Regions from separate parts of the Homo sapiens genome. Here region 2 is linked to region 1. The links come from fine-mapping of genetic effects on gene expression. A gene starts in region 1. The other region holds a variant in brackets. All regions are shown on one strand. Distances are between the middles of the regions.

What was found.
Region 2: its variant is fine-mapped to the expression of NECAB2 in whole blood (TOPMed, PIP above 0.99).

The regions. Positions count from the first base shown.
Region 1 is chr16:83,962,514-83,971,665 of GRCh38, forward strand. It overlaps NECAB2 (N-terminal EF-hand calcium binding protein 2), which reads left to right and starts at 5,731. Exons shown (of 13, transcript NM_019065.3): 1 at 5,731-6,336. The coding sequence starts at 6,136. It overlaps OSGIN1 (oxidative stress induced growth inhibitor 1), which reads left to right. Exons shown (of 6, transcript NM_182981.3): 6 at 2,549-3,819. The coding sequence ends at 3,494. RefSeq lists a silencer at 5,607-5,796.
Region 2 is chr16:83,993,660-84,002,953 of GRCh38, forward strand. It overlaps NECAB2 (N-terminal EF-hand calcium binding protein 2), which reads left to right. Exons shown (of 13, transcript NM_019065.3): 7 at 643-761; 8 at 950-1,029; 9 at 3,557-3,610; 10 at 4,546-4,658; 11 at 7,065-7,142; 12 at 8,166-8,257; 13 at 8,659-9,117. The coding sequence ends at 8,687. Among named protein-coding and RNA genes, the nearest start is that of NECAB2, 30 kb to the left of the region's middle. RefSeq lists a silencer at 2,327-2,386 and an enhancer at 8,665-9,294. The variant A/G (reference allele first, on the strand shown) is at 4,191.

The sequences.
Region 1 (9,152 bases):
TACAGGCGTGAGCCACCACGCCAGGCTAATTTAGGAAGTTTAATTGCCAAGGTTGAAGACGCACAACCATGACACAGCCTCAGGAGGTCCTGATAACATGTACACATGGTGGTCGGGGCACAGCCTGGCTGTATACGTTAGGGAGACTTGAGACATCAATCACTATATGTAAGATGGACATTGGTTCCGTCCAGAGGCGGGACAACTCCAGCAGGGAGGGGTGTTTCCAGGTCTCAGACAGGTGAGAGACAAACGGTTGCATTCTTTCGAGTTTCTTATAAGCCTTTCCAAAGGAGGCAATCAGGTGTGCATTTATCTCAGTGGGCAGAGGGAAGACTTTGAGTAGGACGGGAGGCAGCTTTGCCCTAGGCAGTTCCCTGCTTGACTTTTCCTTTAACTTAGTGATTTGGGGGCCCCAAGATTGATTTGCCTCTCACAGTTTCAATCACTGAATAAAGGAGTTCTAGTCCCTGCTCCTCCTGGGGTGCATCCACTCAATGAGAAGCTGCCCCAGCGCAGATACCTGGGTGCAGTCTGCCTCTCGGGAAGCCCTGCTTCCTCCGCCCCCAGGGCTGTGACCAGGCCTGTGTCCCCAACGGCAGGCACTCCAGGCGTCCCCCTCCAGGCCTCACTATCTCTTTGATGCGAAGACTCTTCTGCATGTTTGGCAGGAAGACTTCCAGGTTTGTGTAGCTACATGTTAGTAGGCAGCCAGAAACTTACATTTCGCTTGTAAGCACAGCCTTTTATAGGCTCATTTTGCATTTTCACATTGTATCCCAAGCGTTTCATGTGGTGAAGTCACAGCGTTCAAAACCATCCTTTTACATGGCCTCACAATATTCCCAAAGGCGAGTGAGCATCCCCAGTCCAGCAAATCTTCACCGAATGCTTATTATGTGCCAGGCCTTGGGCTTAGACGTCAGAGCACAAAACCACCGCAGACACACCCCCTGCCTCATGGCACTGCCAAGGTTACCCAGCCCCTGCCAGCCCTGGAGCATTCATTCTTTCCATTGTGTCATTATTATAAATAACTCTGCACAGAACATGCTCTTGGGACCGTTCTGTGTCACAATCTTTACAAAAACTGAGAAAAGAATGACTGCCCACAGAGATAAATTCCAGGGTCGCAGACGGGCTGCGCTGGGTTGACTGGCACGGCCTTGGGGGTCCATTGTCAGCTCCTGCTACATGTAGCCGGACGGCAGGTGGCACAGGATTCTCCCGTATGGGAGTTCATCTTGAACCATGAGCCCACAAGCTGGGTAGATTAACTCATCTAAGGTCACACAGTGAGATACAGGAAGGTGCTAGAATGATGCAAAGCCTGTCATTCAACCGCCACAAGAATGGGCCTGCAGTCACTGCCCCTGGAAAGAGTGACAATCCAAACAACAACAACAATAATAGAATACCTCCTGCTGCTGCGTGGGCTGGGAACGATGGTGAGTGCGTCACATGGGAGTCTTTAAATCAACTTTAAATCAACTTTTTGACTACATATAGGCTGGGTGCGGTGGCGCAAGCCTGTAATCCCAGCACTTTGGGAGGCCGAGGCTGGTGGATCACTTGAGGTCAAGAGTTCGAAACCATCCTGGCCAACATGGCAAAACCCCATCTCTAATAAAAATACAAAAATTAGCCAGGTATGGCGCTGCATGCCTGTAGTTCCAGCTGCTCAGGAGGCCGAGGTATGAGAATCACCTGAGCCCGGGAGGCAGGGGCTGCAGCGAGCTGAGATCACACCACGGCACTCCAGCCTGGGCAGCAGAGTGAGACTCTGTCTCAAAAAATTAAAATAAAATAAAATAAAATAAAATAAAATAATAAATTGGCTACATATAGAAAAGTACGTAACTCCTGTGAGTACAGGTTGATGAAATTTCTCAAGGTAAGCACAGAGAATGAAGAAGCAGGCCCCCTCCCAGAAGCCCCCATGCCCTTTCTGATCAGGATCCCATTCCCCATCCCCGGAGGTAACCCCTCTCTTGACATCCAGCTCCATAGATGAGTTCTGCCTGTTTCTGAACTCTGTAAAAATGGAATCATACCATATTTAATCATTTGAGGTGACAATCATGGTGGCCTATCCTTACATGGCACTTACTTCCAGTCAGGTTCCATCCTAAGCACTTTGTGTTTGTCAGCTCACCAAATCCTCCCCACGACCTCACGAAATAGGTCCTGCCACCAACATCTTCCTCATTTTGCAAACTGGGGAAACAGACACAGCTCCCTGATGGCAGAGTCAGGATTCGAGCCCAGGCAGCGGGGCTCTGGAGGCTGCCCTCTGAACCCCACCCTACACCACCCTAGAGCATCCTACACCACCCTACACCACCTCTCCTGAGGGAGGCACCCTTGTTAGCTCCATTTTACAGAAGAGGAGACTGAGGCTTAGAGAGGTTGAATTACCTGGCCTAGTCCTACAGCTACAGCCTAGTCCAGCTCCAGGGCCTGACACTGCCCTGGACATCTCCCGTCCCACCCAGCCCCCCAACCCCTAACAGTGTCTGACTCTGGCGTCCTGCATCCTCCCCAACAGAGGTCTTCGCAACAGCCGGGCCACTGCCGGGGACATCGCCCACTACTACAGGGACTACGTGGTCAAGAAGGGTCTGGGGCATAACTTTGTGTCCGGTGCTGTAGTCACAGCCGTGGAGTGGGGGACCCCCGATCCCAGCAGCTGTGGGGCCCAGGACTCCAGCCCCCTCTTCCAGGTGAGCGGCTTCCTGACCAGGAACCAGGCCCAGCAGCCCTTCTCGCTGTGGGCCCGCAACGTGGTCCTCGCCACAGGCACGTTCGACAGCCCGGCCCGGCTGGGCATCCCCGGGGAGGCCCTGCCCTTCATCCACCATGAGCTGTCTGCCCTGGAGGCCGCCACAAGGGTGGGTGCGGTGACCCCGGCCTCAGACCCTGTCCTCATCATTGGCGCGGGGCTGTCAGCGGCCGACGCGGTCCTCTACGCCCGCCACTACAACATCCCGGTGATCCATGCCTTCCGCCGGGCCGTGGACGACCCTGGCCTGGTGTTCAACCAGCTGCCCAAGATGCTGTACCCCGAGTACCACAAGGTGCACCAGATGATGCGGGAGCAGTCCATCCTGTCGCCCAGCCCCTATGAGGGTTACCGCAGCCTCCCCAGGCACCAGCTGCTGTGCTTCAAGGAAGACTGCCAGGCCGTGTTCCAGGACCTCGAGGGTGTCGAGAAGGTGTTTGGGGTCTCCCTGGTGCTGGTCCTCATCGGCTCCCACCCCGACCTCTCCTTCCTGCCTGGGGCAGGGGCTGACTTTGCAGTGGATCCTGACCAGCCGCTGAGCGCCAAGAGGAACCCCATTGACGTGGACCCCTTCACCTACCAGAGCACCCGCCAGGAGGGCCTGTACGCCATGGGGCCGCTGGCCGGGGACAACTTCGTGAGGTTTGTGCAGGGGGGCGCCTTGGCTGTGGCCAGCTCCCTGCTAAGGAAGGAGACCAGGAAGCCACCCTAACACTCGGCCAGACCCGCTGGCTCCCAGGCCCTGAGAGGACAGAGATGACCACATCCCTGCTGGATGCAGGACCCGTCCAAAGATGCCCCGGGGAGGGGTGTCAGCCCACGTTGCTGGCCTTTGGGGTCAAGAGGAGTAGGGATCCCAGGCTGCCCTGGACTTAGACCAGTGTCTGAGGTGGTAACAGCGGCCGCAGGCCAGGGTTGGCCTAGACCTGGGATTTGTGGGGAAAGCTGCTGGTGTGACCAGCTGAGCACCCAGCCAGGAGACCTGCAGCCCTGCGCCTTCCAGAAGCAGGTCCCAAATAAAGCCAGTGCCCACCTGCTCTCATGCGTCTGAGGACTCTGTGCTCGGAGGGAGCTGCGTTCCCGGAACCCTGCACTGGGCTGGGGGGAAGGGAGGAAAGGGGATTGTGGGAGGAGTCCTGGGGCATGTGGTCCTGGATGAGGTCCATGGCTGGGGCCTTGGGGTACAAAGGATGGTGCCCCAAGTGTGGGGGCAGTTGAGCGGGCAGCTGTACTAGAGTCTGGGGGTGGGAGTGGCGGGTGTGTGCAGGCAGTGATGTCCAGGAGGGCGCTGCAGCCCCGCCCCCTCCGCAGCCTGTCCCAGGCCTCCCTCCTCTCTGTTCTGCCATGCGGCCTCCTTTCAGTCCCTCCTGCTGGCCAGGTCTCTGCCTGCCCCAAGGCCTTTGCACAGAGAGTCCCCAGCCCAGGACAGTTTCCCGCCTTTCTTTAACTCCTTTTCCTTGGGATGTCTCAGCATAAGAATCACTTCCTCTAGGAAGCCTCTTCTGACACAAACCCCTCCACTGCCGTCACAGCAAATACTCCTTTCATGGTCTAAGGTGCTACCTTTTCATAGCAGTGCAGTTTTTTTTTCTTTTTTTTGAGACAGAGTCTCATTTTGTCACCCAGGCTGGAGTGCTGTGGCGCTTGGTTCACTACAACCTCTGCTTCTGGGTTGAAATGATTCTCCTGTCTCAGCCTCCCAAGTAGCTGGGATTACAGGTGACTGCCACCTCGCCCAGCTAGTTATTGTATTTTTAATAGAGACGGGGTTTCACCATGTTGGCCAGGCTGGTCTTGAACTCCTGACCTCAAGTGATCCGCCCTCTTTGGCTCCCCAAAGTGTTGGTATCACAGGCATGAGCCACCACACCCTTCCAGCAGTTCAGTTTTAATTGTTCATTTGTTTGTGGAATCATTTCAGTGTTTGGCTCTGCCCACTTGGATGTAAGCTCCAGGAGCTCTGGGAGACCAAGTACACCATCTGTTTTGCCCATTGCTGGAACTCCGTGGTTGGGCACCTGCCTGGCACCTAGTGGGTTCTCCTTAATTCATCTTTTAAATGGATGGGTGGATGGATGGATGGGAGGATGGGTGGGTGGGTGGACAGATGGATAGATGAGAGGATGGTTGGATGGATGGGAGGATGGTGGGTGGGTGGATGGATGGATGGATGGATGGGAGGGAGGGGGGTGGGTGGGTGGGTGGATGGATGGGAGGGAGGATGGATGGATGGATGGGAGGGAGGGAGGATAGATGGATGGATGGAAGGATGGTGGGTGGATGGATGGGAGGGTGTGTAGGTGGGTGGATGGATGGATGGATGAGAGGGTAGGGGGGTGGATAGATGGATAGATGGGAGGGTGGGTGGGTGGATGGACAGACAGATGGGCGGGCGGGCAGATGGATGGACGGATGGATGGATGGATGGATGGATGGATGGATGGATGGATGGGAGGGTGGATGGATGGATGGATGGAGGGTGGATGGATGGATGCCAGGGAGGGAGGATGAGTGGGTGGGTGAATGGATGGATGGATGGGAGGATGCTGGGTGGGTGGATGGATGGATGGATGAATGGTTGGGAGGGTGGGTGGATGGATGGACGGACAGTCGGCCGGCCGGATGGATGGATGGGAGGATGGGTGGATGGATGTATAGATGGATTGATGGACGGGTAGGCAGGTGGATGGATGGATGGATGGATGGACGGACAGGTGGGTGGGTGGATAGATGGATGGGTGGATGGAGTATGAAGGAAAGATGTTCTGGGGTGAAGACTGGTTCTGGGCGTTTTGTAACCAAGGGGGCGGCCTGAGGGGGCGTGCACGCCCGCGGGAGTTAAGGATGGGCGCCCGCGGGCGTGACGGGGCCGCGGGGCGTGGGCGCCGCTCCCCGGGGCTGGAGCCGGCAGAGGGCGCTCCGGGCTCGCTGGACACCCGCGCTTCGGCCTCTGCTGCGCGCCGCGAGTGGGAGGGGGGACTTTAGAAGCGGGGAGAGCAGGAGACTTTTGGGGAGCAGGCCCCAGGGGCGCCGCCCCGCCCCCAGGCCCCACATACCCCTCCCCTCCGGGTAGCCCCCTCTGTGGCTGCGCCCGCGCCCCTCGCCCCGGCGGGCAGTCCTCAGGCCCCGCGCCCGGCCGGCGGGGGTGGGGGCGGCGGGGAGCGGGCACGTGGCTCGGGGTCCGGCCGGCCCGCCCCCCGGCGCCGGCCAGTCCCCGCGGTGTCCGCGGCCGCGGGGGCAGCGGGAGAGAGGGCGGGGCGGCGCGGGCAGCGCGGGGAGGGGGTCGCGCGGGGGCGGGCCGCAGCTGGGCGGGGGTCGGCGGGCTTCCGGGCGGCGGCGGCGGGCGCGGCGCGATGTGCGAGCGGGCGGCGCGCCTGTGCAGGGCCGGCGCGCACAGGCTGCTCCGGGAGCCGCCGCAGCAGGGCCGGGCGCTGGGCGGGCTGCTGCGCTGGGTGGGCGCCAGGATGGGCGAGCCCCGGGAGTCGCTGGCCCCCGCCGCCCCCGCGGACCCCGGCCCAGCCTCGCCGCGCGGGGGCACCGCCGTCATCCTGGACGTGAGTACGCGCCGGCCGGGACCCCCGCCGTGGCCTCCGCTGGGACCCGGAGCCCCCTCCGCCCCTCGGGCGGACCCCGACGCCGCGACCCGCGAGGCCCTCCCTACCCGGGCAGGAGACCCCCGGCCCCTCCGCGTGCCGGAGCGGGAGCCCCCAGCCCCGCCACGTCCAGGCCGGTCTCCAGCCCAGTCCTCTCCCTGGACCGGGAGACCCCCCTCCTCCGCCCCTCCACCGGCGCTTCTCGGAGTCCCTGCCTGCCCACAGTGGGGAGCCGTGAGCCCCCGGACCCGGCCACTGTCCCCCTAGTTTTGTCCAAGCCAAACCCCCACCCTTTACCCCGCGGGACCGGAGCCCCTCGCCGCGTCCAGCCGCCTCCTCCTCTCCATCCCGGATCCTGTCCGGAGCGATACTTTTCTGAGACCCCTAACAACCCCTACCTCTAGCCCACCTCTCTTCGCCCTAGACCCTGAGCCCCCGTTCATCTCACGCTCAAAGACCCTTTGCCCCAGCTACTGCCACTTTAAAAGTGAAGCCCCCTCCCCACCTTCTGTCTTCTCGTCTCCTTTCCATTGAGCCAGAGCCATCGCCCATCAGCCCTGAGCTGGTACCCCTCTGGTCTTCCCCACCCCGCCCCCTTCCATTCCAAGTCCTCTGTTCCCTTCCCCACACCCCTCTACCCTACAGAGAGCTGGGTCCTCTTCATGGACCAGACTCACCCCTCACCCCTCCTAACTCCCCTGGGACCCAAATCACCCATCTCTGGGAAGCCCACCTCACCCTCCCACCCGCCCCACCCGGGAGGGAGGAATCTTCAGGGGGCGGCTCGGAGGAGGAGGACTTCTCCCAGCAGAGAGTGCTAGGAGGAGGTGGAGGAGGCTTCTGGGGATGTTGACTGCGTGTTTCAGCGAGGGTCCTGCTGGGGTGGGGCTGGGGGCTGCCTCTGCCTGTGTGGTGGATTTCTGGGAGAGTGGTGGGTGTGTGTGAATGTGCACACGCGTGTATCGCGGATCCCTGTGAGTCGGGGGATTCCCTCCCTTCCTCTCTCCTCTTCCCTGCTCCTGGAACCCTTGGCCGGGGTCTGGGCTGGGAGGGCCGGCCAGAGCAGGGGGAGCTCTAGAGTGCCACACTCGCAGGCACACATTCACACACTCACGCACTCGCTTACGCACGCACACACAGCCAGAGACACACCCATGCAGCCAAACCATCCCCTCCTCAGGACCCCCGCAGAGCTCCCACTGAAAGTCCTGGGCAGAGCCCTGCAGCCCCAAGCTGCCCTGCATGGAAGCCCTGCCCAGTCAGGGTGGGGGCTCTGAGGTTCCATCTCCTCACCTGCCAAAAGGAGTGATGAGCGGGGGGTGGGGCGGGAGGTGCTCATGCAGACTCCTGGAGCTGGCTGACATTACCAGGTGTCAGCCCTGCCATGTCACTCATGTGTTCAGCATTCCTGCCCAGAGCCGGCACCTACCTGGTGCCTGGCCTCAAGGGGGATCTGGGACACCCAGATAGGGACCCCAGTTTTGAGGAGCCTTGCCCAGTCAGGAACGGGGCTGCGGGGTGCCCAGGCTGGATCTTTGAGGAGGGCTTGGGGATCTGAGGTTCAGCCAGGAGGAGGGGTGATGTTTGAGAGGCCCTCCCATAGCTGTGCTTCAGTCTCACCGCCCAGGTGCCTAGAAATGACCAAGGGTGCCCCCTTTCTCGTTGCCTGGAGGGATGGGGGGCGAGGGCATCTGTCCTTTACCCCAAGGCGAGGACAGAGGGTGGAAGGGTCAGAGTGAGTATTACCTCCTCCTCCTCCATGGCTGACCTGGCCCCAGCAGCCCTCCCTGGTGTCGGGAAATGTGTACATGTTGCTGCCTCTCCCTGGGTCTCAGTACCCTCCTTGTTAAAACAAGCCACTGAGATTGGGGTGGGGGCCACCGCAGAAGCTGGGATCCTTCTCAGGCTTTAAAGTGCTGGTGGGCAGGGCGCCGTGGCTCACGCCTGTAATCCCAGCACTTTGGGAGGCCGAGGCGGGTGGATCACCTGAGGTCAGGGGTTCGAGACCAGCTTGACCAACAAGGTGAAACCTCGTCTCTACTAAAAAATACAAAAATTAGCCAGTTGTGATGGCGGGCGTCTGTAGTCCCAGCTACTCGGAAGGCTGATACAGGAGAATTGCTTGAACCCGGGAGGCAGAAGTTGCAGTGAGCCAAGATCGCGCCACTGCACTCCAGCCTGGGTGACAGAGCGAGACCCCATCTCAAAAAAAAAAAAAATAGTGCTGGTGAATCAGTCCCCGTGGGAACTGGTTACAGTGAAAGGTCTGACTCCACTACAGTGCAGAGTAGGTGGGACATCCTGCATTGCAAACAAGCTCCTGCAGGACCCAAACAGCTCCTGTGAATAGCAAGGTCTTAGCGCACAGGTGTCAACATTGGGCCTGGGAGGCTTTAAAAATGCTGAAATCAGAGTGGGCCTCACAGCAGCTGATTCAGTCACCCTGGGGTGTGGCCCGGGCTGAGGAGGTTTTGAAAGCTCTCCAGGCGATGGTGTTGGAAGGGGCGGAAAGCTGCCTTCGAGCCTCAGCCTGGCAAGCAGCACCTGCCAGCCAGACCTTGAGGAAAGGGGAGCAGCTCTGTCCCACGGATTCAGATGTCACTGGAAAGGCAGAACGAGGAGGCACCTGGTCTTGTAGGTTCAGGCCAGCCTTGGAGCTGCCCTCCACCCATCCCTGCCTAATGCAGCCGGAACTTCGTCTGCGGCTGCTTTTCTGAACTCTTGGCGTCCTGTTTCTCCTCCTGCACCCCAAAATTAACGCAGTCCTGCCCGTGGCT
Region 2 (9,294 bases), 31 kb after region 1:
GTGTGTGTGTCTGCCTCTGCCTGTGGCTAGCTGTGCCTGTCAGGGCACGCAGGGGTGTGTATGCACATGAGTATGCACAGGAGAGGGGTGTCCAGGGCCGGGAGATGGGGCCAGGCCCAGGTCAGGATCACAGTTTCTGTCCTGTTACATCCCGACTGTCAGTGTCTCTTTAGGTCTCGCTTTTATGTGTATGTGTTGGAGGGGGGTCTTGAAACCAGGTCCCCCACCCCAGAGGGCACCAAACATTAAATGGGCCTATCATGAGGGAGGGAGGGGGACTTGGTCACTCCACAGCTTGGGCTCTACACGTGCCCGAAAGCTTCGAGCTGTTAGAGTGGGGGTGGGTCCCTGGCTCAGCCTCACTCTGGAACTGAATCTCTTGGGGAAAAGGCCTAGGCCGTGGGGTCCTAGAATGGAGCTGAATTCGAATCCCAGCTCTGCCCAGCTAGCTGCGTGGCCCTGGCTGAGTCACCTGCTTTAAGAACCTCATTTCCTCCTCTGTCAAAACAAAGGCCATGATGCAAGTTCTGTGCATGTGTGAGTCCACTGTCTTGCGTAATAAATGCCTGTGGAAGATGCTGGAAGTGGTAAGGGCCCTGAAGCCACCGCCATGGTCTGTGTGTGTTCCCATCCAAACTGCAGACAGAACCACATCAAACCCAGCCACAGCGCGGCACAGACCTGGTGTGGAAGCCCCACTCCCGCCTCTGCCCCCAACCACAAGCTCATGGCTATGGAACAAGGCAAGACCCTTCCATCTGGTGAGAGAAAGCGGGGGCCCTGGTGGGGGTACCAGCTGGGGGTCCCGAGGAGTTCTGAGAGTCCTCTGACAGGGACTGGGGAGATGAGCAAGTTTGATGCCCCTGGAGGGGCTGGATGTTTCCAGCTTCCCCCCGAAGCCCTCGTCCTGCCCACCACTGAAGTCTGTGTGTCTCTTTCTCTACCGCAGCCACGGAGGATGCAAAGGAAGAGGGTCTGGAAGCCCAGATCAGCCGCTTGGCAGAGCTGATTGGGAGGCTGGAGAGCAAAGTAAGCCCTGGCCTGACCACGGCGTCTACTCCTTCCAACCCCTGAGGGAGTGCAGAGTTAAGCCTGGAGTTCAGGACAAAAGTCTGGGCTGCAGAGGGGCCAGGGAACCATGAAAAAGACATCCCCCAGGTGGGGCGTGGAGCTGCCGAGGACGAAGCTAAGGATCAAACCCCGGGGGATGCTCGTGTTGTTCAGGCCCAAGGAGGGGCGCCTGGGAAGAGAGAGTGTTGGGGGGTCAGGCGGGCCTGCAGGCAGCAGGAGCAGCTCCAGGAGCAGAGGGTGGTCAGCAGGGTCCCGTGTTGCAAGGCCCTAGCTTCAAGGAGACTTTGCTCTGAAGTGGCTGGAGCAGATATTGGCCGAAAGGCAGCACCAGGATGAAAGAGAGACGTGATGATTCGAGAGAGTTTCAAAACAAGGAAGGAAGTGACCAGCAGTAGCAAATGTATTAAGTGTGATATGGGACGTCCACAGGTGATAGAAAATGGCACAGCCCTTACAGAAAACATTTTCAGATAATGTTTCGTGACTCGGGATAGAGTGCTCACAATATGACCATTTGGTGGAAAGAAAAGTTTGTCTTAGGGCCTACAGACAGATGGGCTCAGGTATCAGTCAGAATTCTGGTTGTGCCACTTCATAGCTGTGTGACCCTGGGCCAGGGACTTGTCCTCTCTGAGGCTTAGATTCCTCCTCTGATAATCAAGAAAATAACCTGGAGCATGGGACCCCTCCCTCATAGGGGTGTCGTTAGGATGAACCAAAATGATGTCTCCGGTTTAGCACAGGGCCCGGTGCTGTAGCTTGCATTTAATATTAGCAATGTTAGCAATTATTATGAGGCATTCTGTTACCCAAACCTATCCACATGCACACAGCACACCCGTATACCCACATAAGCCAAGGTAACTGAGCTCTCAGAACCCTGGGATTGAGGTGGTTTTATGTTTCTCCTACTTTTGTGTATTTTTTTTACACCCTTTGTAAAGGGTATTGCTACTTTTAGTTTGGGGGTTCTCAGGCATTCATGGGGGCAGGAACAAGGGGCTCCCCGCATGGAGGGAGACAGAGGCTGACGTGGAATGAAGTCCGAGGGAGGAAGCTCAAACTTCCCCTCCTGCAGGGATGAGGCTGAGGTGGAGTTACCCCCTTCCTGAAGCCAGCTGCGGGAGCGGCTCGGAGGGGACCCCGTGGCCCGGTTGTCATAACAACTCAGCGGGCGCCTCGGGAGGGAGACTCTGAAGCTTATTTTTAGAGCACCGTCGCCCTAACAACCAGGCTGGCTGGTAACCACGGAGTACCTGGGCGTCCTGGAGACGGGGTGGGACCAGGTCCTCCTCCCCAGCCTCTAACTGGCCCGGGCGGTCAGCAGGGGCCAATCCGGGCCTGGCTTCAGGCCCCGCCCTTCACCGGCCAACCGGAGCTGCCTCTGGGCTGGAAGGATGGAGGCTCTAGGGGCCCCTGGCTGGGAGAAGAATGGGGCAGATACAGGGGCCACAGTGCCTCTCCTCATCCTCCTATGGCTTTTCCAGCCCCAGGACCCCTCACGTATGCTTGTAAAACCATGGAAACAGACTTGTTCCTGCCAGGCACACCTTCACCACTTACCAAGGCGTGTTCATGCTGTGTGCCCCCAGAAGGCAGTACCCTTGCCAGGATCAGCTACTACAGAGCCCAGTGCAAAATGAGCGTGCAAGGTCCCTTGCTCAAACATTTAGAACGTCACGGTGGTGACTACACAGACTCATCCACCTGCTGCTGTTTTCCTTATTAGCTGGCGTGCTTTACCTGTGGCTGCCCTGTGTGACTCCCGTAGATGGTCTGTCCTCATGGAGGATGGACAGAGATAGCCACAGAGGTGGTTAGTGGGGTGCCCAAGCTGAAGGAAGCAGCAGCATGAGCCTGTGCGTCAGGTAGACACACTGGGTTCAGACCCACGCTCTGACACTTACATGGCTTTCGTGCCTTCAGAGCCGGGGTTCTCTGCCGTGACATAGTGACTGTTGATCTTCTGTGGGGGCTCAGCCCTGTGTGGGCACCAGTCGTGGGCGAACAGAGCAGATGTGGTTCCTGGAGACCGAAACTTACAGTGGGGCAGCACCTTCCCTGGGGAGTCTGGAAGATTGTGTATTTGTAAACCATCTAGCTTAGAGTCTGGGGAAGACCAGAGAGAACAGTTCACCCCATTAGATCCCTGAGGTGCTGGGGGTTATGATTTGGGGTGAATTATAAGTTACAGGGAATCTAAGGGCTGTTGCTCATCATAGTGGCAAACCCCAGCATCTTGGACTCAGGCCTCTGGAGTCCCCCTTGCTGCCTCTCCCAAGCCATCCTCACCCCAGCAACATGTTCTAGGCCCCCTGTAGGCCAGAGGGAGTCTCTGCCACTTCCTAGCGTTGGTCTCCCAGCCCTGTGCAACAGGGCCGGGTCCTTGGGAGCTCCCAACAGCCCCAGGGATCCCAGAGCTCCTGGCTCCCCGGGGCGGAGTGGGGCTCTGGGTCTAGCATCACTGTGTGCTGGATTGTTTCAGGCACTGTGGTTCGACCTGCAGCAGCGCCTGTCAGATGAAGATGGCACCAACATGGTGAGGCCCCTTCCCACCTCTCTTCTGGGACCACATCCCTACCCATGCCAGGACTGCCAAGATCCAAGTGGCTCAATGCCCCTGACCCCGCTCTCCCTGCTTGGGACCACCAGGAGGGGAGATGTCGCCCAGCGCTTGGCACCCAGACCCTGCCCTGGCACAGGAGCCACCCCACCAACTCCGGGGGTATTTCTTGAGGCTCCCTGGACCTTTTTTTTTTTTTTTTTTTTTTTTTTGAGATGGAGTCTTGCTGTATCTCCCAGGCTGGAGTGCAGTGGTGGGATGTCGGCTTACTGCAACCTCTGCCTCCTGGGTTCAAGCAATTCTCCTGCCTCAGCCTCCTGAGTAGCTGGGATTACAGGTGTGTGCCACCACGCCTGGCTAATTTTTTTGGTATTTTTAGTAGAGACGGACAGGGTTTCACCATGTTGGTCAGGCTGGTCTCAAACTCCTATCCTCATGATCTGCCCACCTTGGCCTCCTAAAGTGCTGAGATTACAGGCGTGAGCCACCACACCTGGCCCAGAGGCTCCTGGACTTTGATCCAAAAAAGGTTTGGCATAGAGCAAAGTGATCAGCC[A/G]GACAGTGATGTGAAAATGCTGAGTCCATCAACTATGAGTTTTTCTTGTCAGTGGATGTGCTGTGTCTCCAGGCCCTGGAGGCTGTGCAGGTGGTTGTGGACATGGATGGGGCCTCTGTAAACAACCTCGTCTGTTTTCCCCATTTTTGGGGGCTACTTCTGCACTGGGCTCTTGAGGTTCTAGTCCTTTCTTAGCCCATTTTTAGTCCATTCTTATCCATTCATGGGTAAGAATGAAAAGTGGGGGAGGGTTATTTTATTTTGACCGAGGAAGGGAGGTCATGGGGGCCTGATGGGGTGTTTAGGGAGAAGGCCTGACGTGGAGCCCCACACTGACTCCTGCTGTGCCCGGCAGCACCTGCAGCTGGTCCGGCAGGAGATGGCCGTGTGCCCCGAGCAACTGAGCGAGTTTCTGGACTCTCTGCGCCAGTATCTGCGGGGGACCACTGGCGTGAGGAACTGCTTCCAGTGAGTGAGCTGCCGAGGCGTGGGTGGGATGGTGGCAGGGAGCTCTGCCTGGCAGTGGAGGAACAGGGCAGGACTAGGCTTTGCCCTAAGTAGTACAAGTTGCACCCCAGGGACACACACAGCTGGATGCGTAAGAAGTGGGTTCAGGTCTCTACTGAGGTTCCTCCCAGCCAAGCAAATGTGGCAGGTGTCTTCATCTCCCTGGCATCAGCTTACTCATCTGTAAAGGGGGGACCACCCCCAGGACTCCTTGCTGGGGTGATCATGAGTGCATATACAATCAAGTGTGTGAATCTCAAGTGTGAAGGGCTCCAGCTGGGCCTGGTGTGCCCCGTGCGCTCAGTCAGCCTCAGCTGCTGCTGTCACAGGGGTTCCTGCACACTTAAGTCCAGGCCCAGAATGTAGTATTTGCTCAGTTAACCACTGAGGAAGGAGAGGAGAGTCGGTAGCTGAAGGGAAATGCCCAAGTCATGTAGTTGCCCTTCTCCCCCTGATGTGCTGAGATGTCCAGGGCGGGGCAAGCGGCCTTACCTTCAAATTCCTGTTCATCCCACCAGGCTGATGTAGCTCCTTGGTAAAGCTAAGGCATGTGGCCAGGGCCAGAGTGGAGGGGGTTGCAGAAGACAACAGCCCTTTGTTCTTGCTGGTAGTGGTCCCCCGCCCCCCGTTTCTGCAGCAAGGCTCTGCCCAACTCCCTTCCCAGGGCTTTCTTCCATCCCCAGAGCACACACTCATTCACCCCATTGCCTGGGGACATGGCTGTGAACCAGGCAGGCCAGGTCCTAGCACAGGGTCTTTGAGAGGGGTCTTCTTGGGCCCCCTGTGCACTGAGGCTTGAGTGACAACAGCCTGACCTGTAGCACGAGGGGAGGAGTAGCCTGGGCAGGAGTGCGGCCGTTCCCGAGACTCGGCGTGGCCACGAGGGGCCATTCTTGAGTAAGTAGCCAGGATGGGGGGGCAGGACCCACTCCACTCCAGGAGGACAGACTGCACAGGAGCAGGGGCCAGACTTGATCTTTTTCCATTACGTGAATAAGTGGGAGGCTCCAGGGTGAAGTAGGGCCACCCCGATGCGCTGTGGAGAGGAGGCACGGTGGACGTAGAGGCTCTGGTTTGTCGAGTTGGAGACGGCAAGCCTGGAGAGCCAGGTGAGATTCTACTTCCCAGGCATGGTGCACCTAAAGCTGCACGGAGGTGTGTCCACCCCAAGATGGAATCCAGCCCGGCCCCTTCCTCTAGGCTGAGCACTGTAGCCCCTCCTCCCCAGCTTTTGGCCCCCGCTTTATGGTCACTTGGGGCTTCCTCATTGTAGTGCACTTGCAGAGAGGATTCTGGGGCGGCATAGACTATCAGCACCTTTAAAATGACGTGAGTGCGGGCCCCTGGGTCCCATAGAGCAATGGGGGACTTGCCTGCAGCCCCTTCCTCTGTGGCCCAGCACCCCCTCCCCTCAGCCTCCTTTGGTCAGGTCAGGTACAGTGCAGTGGGGGTGTTGCAAGGATTAAATGAGAGGACAAGTAGAAGGAAGAAGAGGGAAGATGCTTTGATTTTTAAAGGTTTTTTGATTTTTAAAGGTTTTTTGAGACCAAATCTTGCTTTATTGTCCAGGCAGGAGTGAGTGTGTAGTAGTGGAAGCTCAGCTCACTGCAACCTCTCACCAGAGGGTTTAAATGAGTCTCATGCCTCAGTGTCCTGCATCGCTGGGATTACAGGGATGTGCCACCAGGCCCAGCAAGTTTTATTTTTTTTTTTTTTAAAGAGACAGTGTTTTGCCATGTTGGCTAGGCTGGTCTTGAACTCCTGACCTCACGTAATCCACCTGCCTCGACCCCTCAAGACTTCCCAAAGTTCTGCGATTACAGGCGTGAACCATCACATCCAGCCACCTGGTTTTGTTTAAATAAATGTTCACACTTTAACATGACATTTCAGCTGGGCACAGTGGCTGAAGTTTGCAATCCTGGCACTTTGGGAAGCCAAGGTGAGAAGACAGCCTGAGCCCAGGAGTTAAAGACCAGCATGGGGAACATAGCAAGACCCCATCTCTATTGGGACAGTTTTTGAATTAGGCCGAGTGGTGCACTCCTCTAGTCCCCGCTACTTGGAAGGCTGAAGTGATTGTGCCACTGCACTCCAGCCTGGGCAACAGAGTGAGACCCTATCTCAAAAGAAAAACTACACTGCATTGATTCTATTTAATAAATAGCTGTTGGCCACTATAAGAAGCCAGGCCTTATTCCCTGTGCTGGGGTCACCCTGTCGAGTCTCGATGGAGGTCAAGACAGGAAGAAACATTGAAGGCAGCCGTTGTGTATAGTGGTGGGTCTCAGGCCACCCCAGGGGAACAGCACTGAGGTGGCCTTGGTTGAGCTCCAGCCTCCTCCCCCCGACCATCTCCTGTTGCAGCATCACTGCCGTGAGGCTCTCAGATGGCTTCACCTTTGTCATCTATGAGTTCTGGGAGACAGAGGAGGCGTGGAAGAGGTGAGATGCTGGGTCCCCACAGCAGGTGAGGGAGACAGAGGGAAGTGGGGGGGCTGTCTTCCTGGAGCCAGGCATCCTTGGAGGGGAGGGTAAGGCCGAGTCCAGTCAGCAGATTCCCGAGGCATCTACCCGCTGGCATGCTTGCGTCAGTAAACCCTGGTGGAGGCAGGAGCTCTTGGTGGGTAGTGAGAGCCCCCACCACACTCAGCTGGGCTTTCCTGCTTTCCCCAGGGTTGCTTCTGTGCCCCTAGAGCACCTTGTCCTCCTGGAACAGCCCTGGGGGCCGAGGCACTGCCTTCTTTACCACCCTGTAGAGTTGAGGGCCTAACCTAGAAGGTGACTCAGTCCCCATGTGATCAATTGTTCCAGCGACTAACCTCCCCTCCAGCTGAGTGCCCGGTACGAGGGACGGAGATGGGGTAGGGTGTCAGCAGCTCTGATGGGCCTTAGGCCTTTGTCCTCTGCTCAGCACACATCTGGGAGAGGGTGGAGACTATTGCTGATGCGCCAGACCCCACAGGCAGGAAGCGGGGCCTAGGGGTAGCCCATGCCCCCATCTCCTGCTTCCCTGGTAAACACTCACGGTTTGCTGACAAACTCAGGACCCCAGTGGGAACAGGGGCGGTCATGAGAAGTGAGAGTGTCCCCTCCCTGTCCGTACTTCAGTGACTCATAAAACGAGGGACTAAAAGCCTTCGCAGCTTCTGTGTTGTCATGGGTCCCAGGCAGAGGATGGCCCCACTCCTCCTGCTAGGGTAAAGGGGGAGGTAGAGGCTCTGTGCAATGAGTGGGGGGATCCCGCTGCCCATTTATAGCTCACAGGGAAAAAGAGAAGCTCACTGCCCACCCCAGAGTCAGCCTCCCTGGGCACCCCCTCACCTTCCCACAAAGGCTCTGAGTCCAAAGACCCCCCGTGCTTATTGATAAGCTCCCCATTTTGGGCTAGAGCTAGGATTAACAGGGGAGCCACACGCGGAGCTCCACTCCTGCCACCCCTGACTCACACATGTCCCTGCGTCACAGGCACCTGCAGAGCCCCCTGTGTAAGGCGTTCCGGCACGTCAAGGTGGACACACTGAGCCAGCCTGAGGCCCTCTCCAGGATCTTGGTGCCAGGTAGGGGGCAAAGGCCTGGAACTGCAGTGGCCACCTGACTGGAGAGAAGGGCAAGAGCCTAGAGGCTGCCCCATATCTCCCGGGGACTTGCCTGCTTGCTGTGGGCCCACTGTCAGCTCCTGCCACCAATGCCAGGCTCAGAGCCAGCCCTGAGGTGGCCCCACATACAGGTATGCCTGCCAGAGCTTGCACCAGAGCACCCCCTCCACGGCCCCCTACTTCCAGCCAGACTGAATTTCCCTTCCCAGGTGTGTGGTTTGCACCTGGGTGACCAGCAAGGACCTGTGTGTCACACAAGGACTCAAAGCCATCCCCCGACCTGTCATTCAAGACGACCACCACCAGCTACGAGGCTGCCCACATTCGCACTCCTTCCCTCTAACGTGTCTCTCTCCTTTTAGCTGCTTGGTGCACGGTGGGACGGGACTGACAGCCTCCCAGAGGCCCGTGGAGGAGCCCACCAGCCCCTTCTTCTTGTGAAGGAAATCCCGTTTTTTTCTAGACAGACACTTTGGTGCAGAAGCTTCTTTTCAATCCATCCTCCACAAGAAGGTGTTTCCCTGTTGTTAAGTGAAGGAGGCCGCCCCTGCCCCCACCTGAGAAGGCAGAGCAGTGTCTGTGCTGCCAGGTCCTGGTGAAGCCCAAGGTTGAAGGGGGCGGCTTCCTGGAGCCAGCACCCCTGCCTCCTGGTCCTGGCCTCTCCCCTACCCCTCACATGGCCACGCATGACCCACACTGACCACACCCTGCCCTCTTCGGTGACATTCTTCTACCTAGTAGGAGTCATGCCCCTGTAGTGCCCAACCTAGCCAGGTAGCCACCACTGTGCCCAGGCGCCAAATAAACCCTGGTTGGGAAGAGCTGTGTGCTCTGTGTCTGTTTCCTGGTTGACAACAGCAGGGGGCCAGGGACCCTTCAAGTGCTCCCAGCCTCAGTTTTCTGAACCATGAAATGGTGGTGGTCACTCTATGCGGTATTTGGGAACTAGGCTCATGCCTATTCAGGAGCTCAGCACCACACCTACCCTCAGGTCAGTA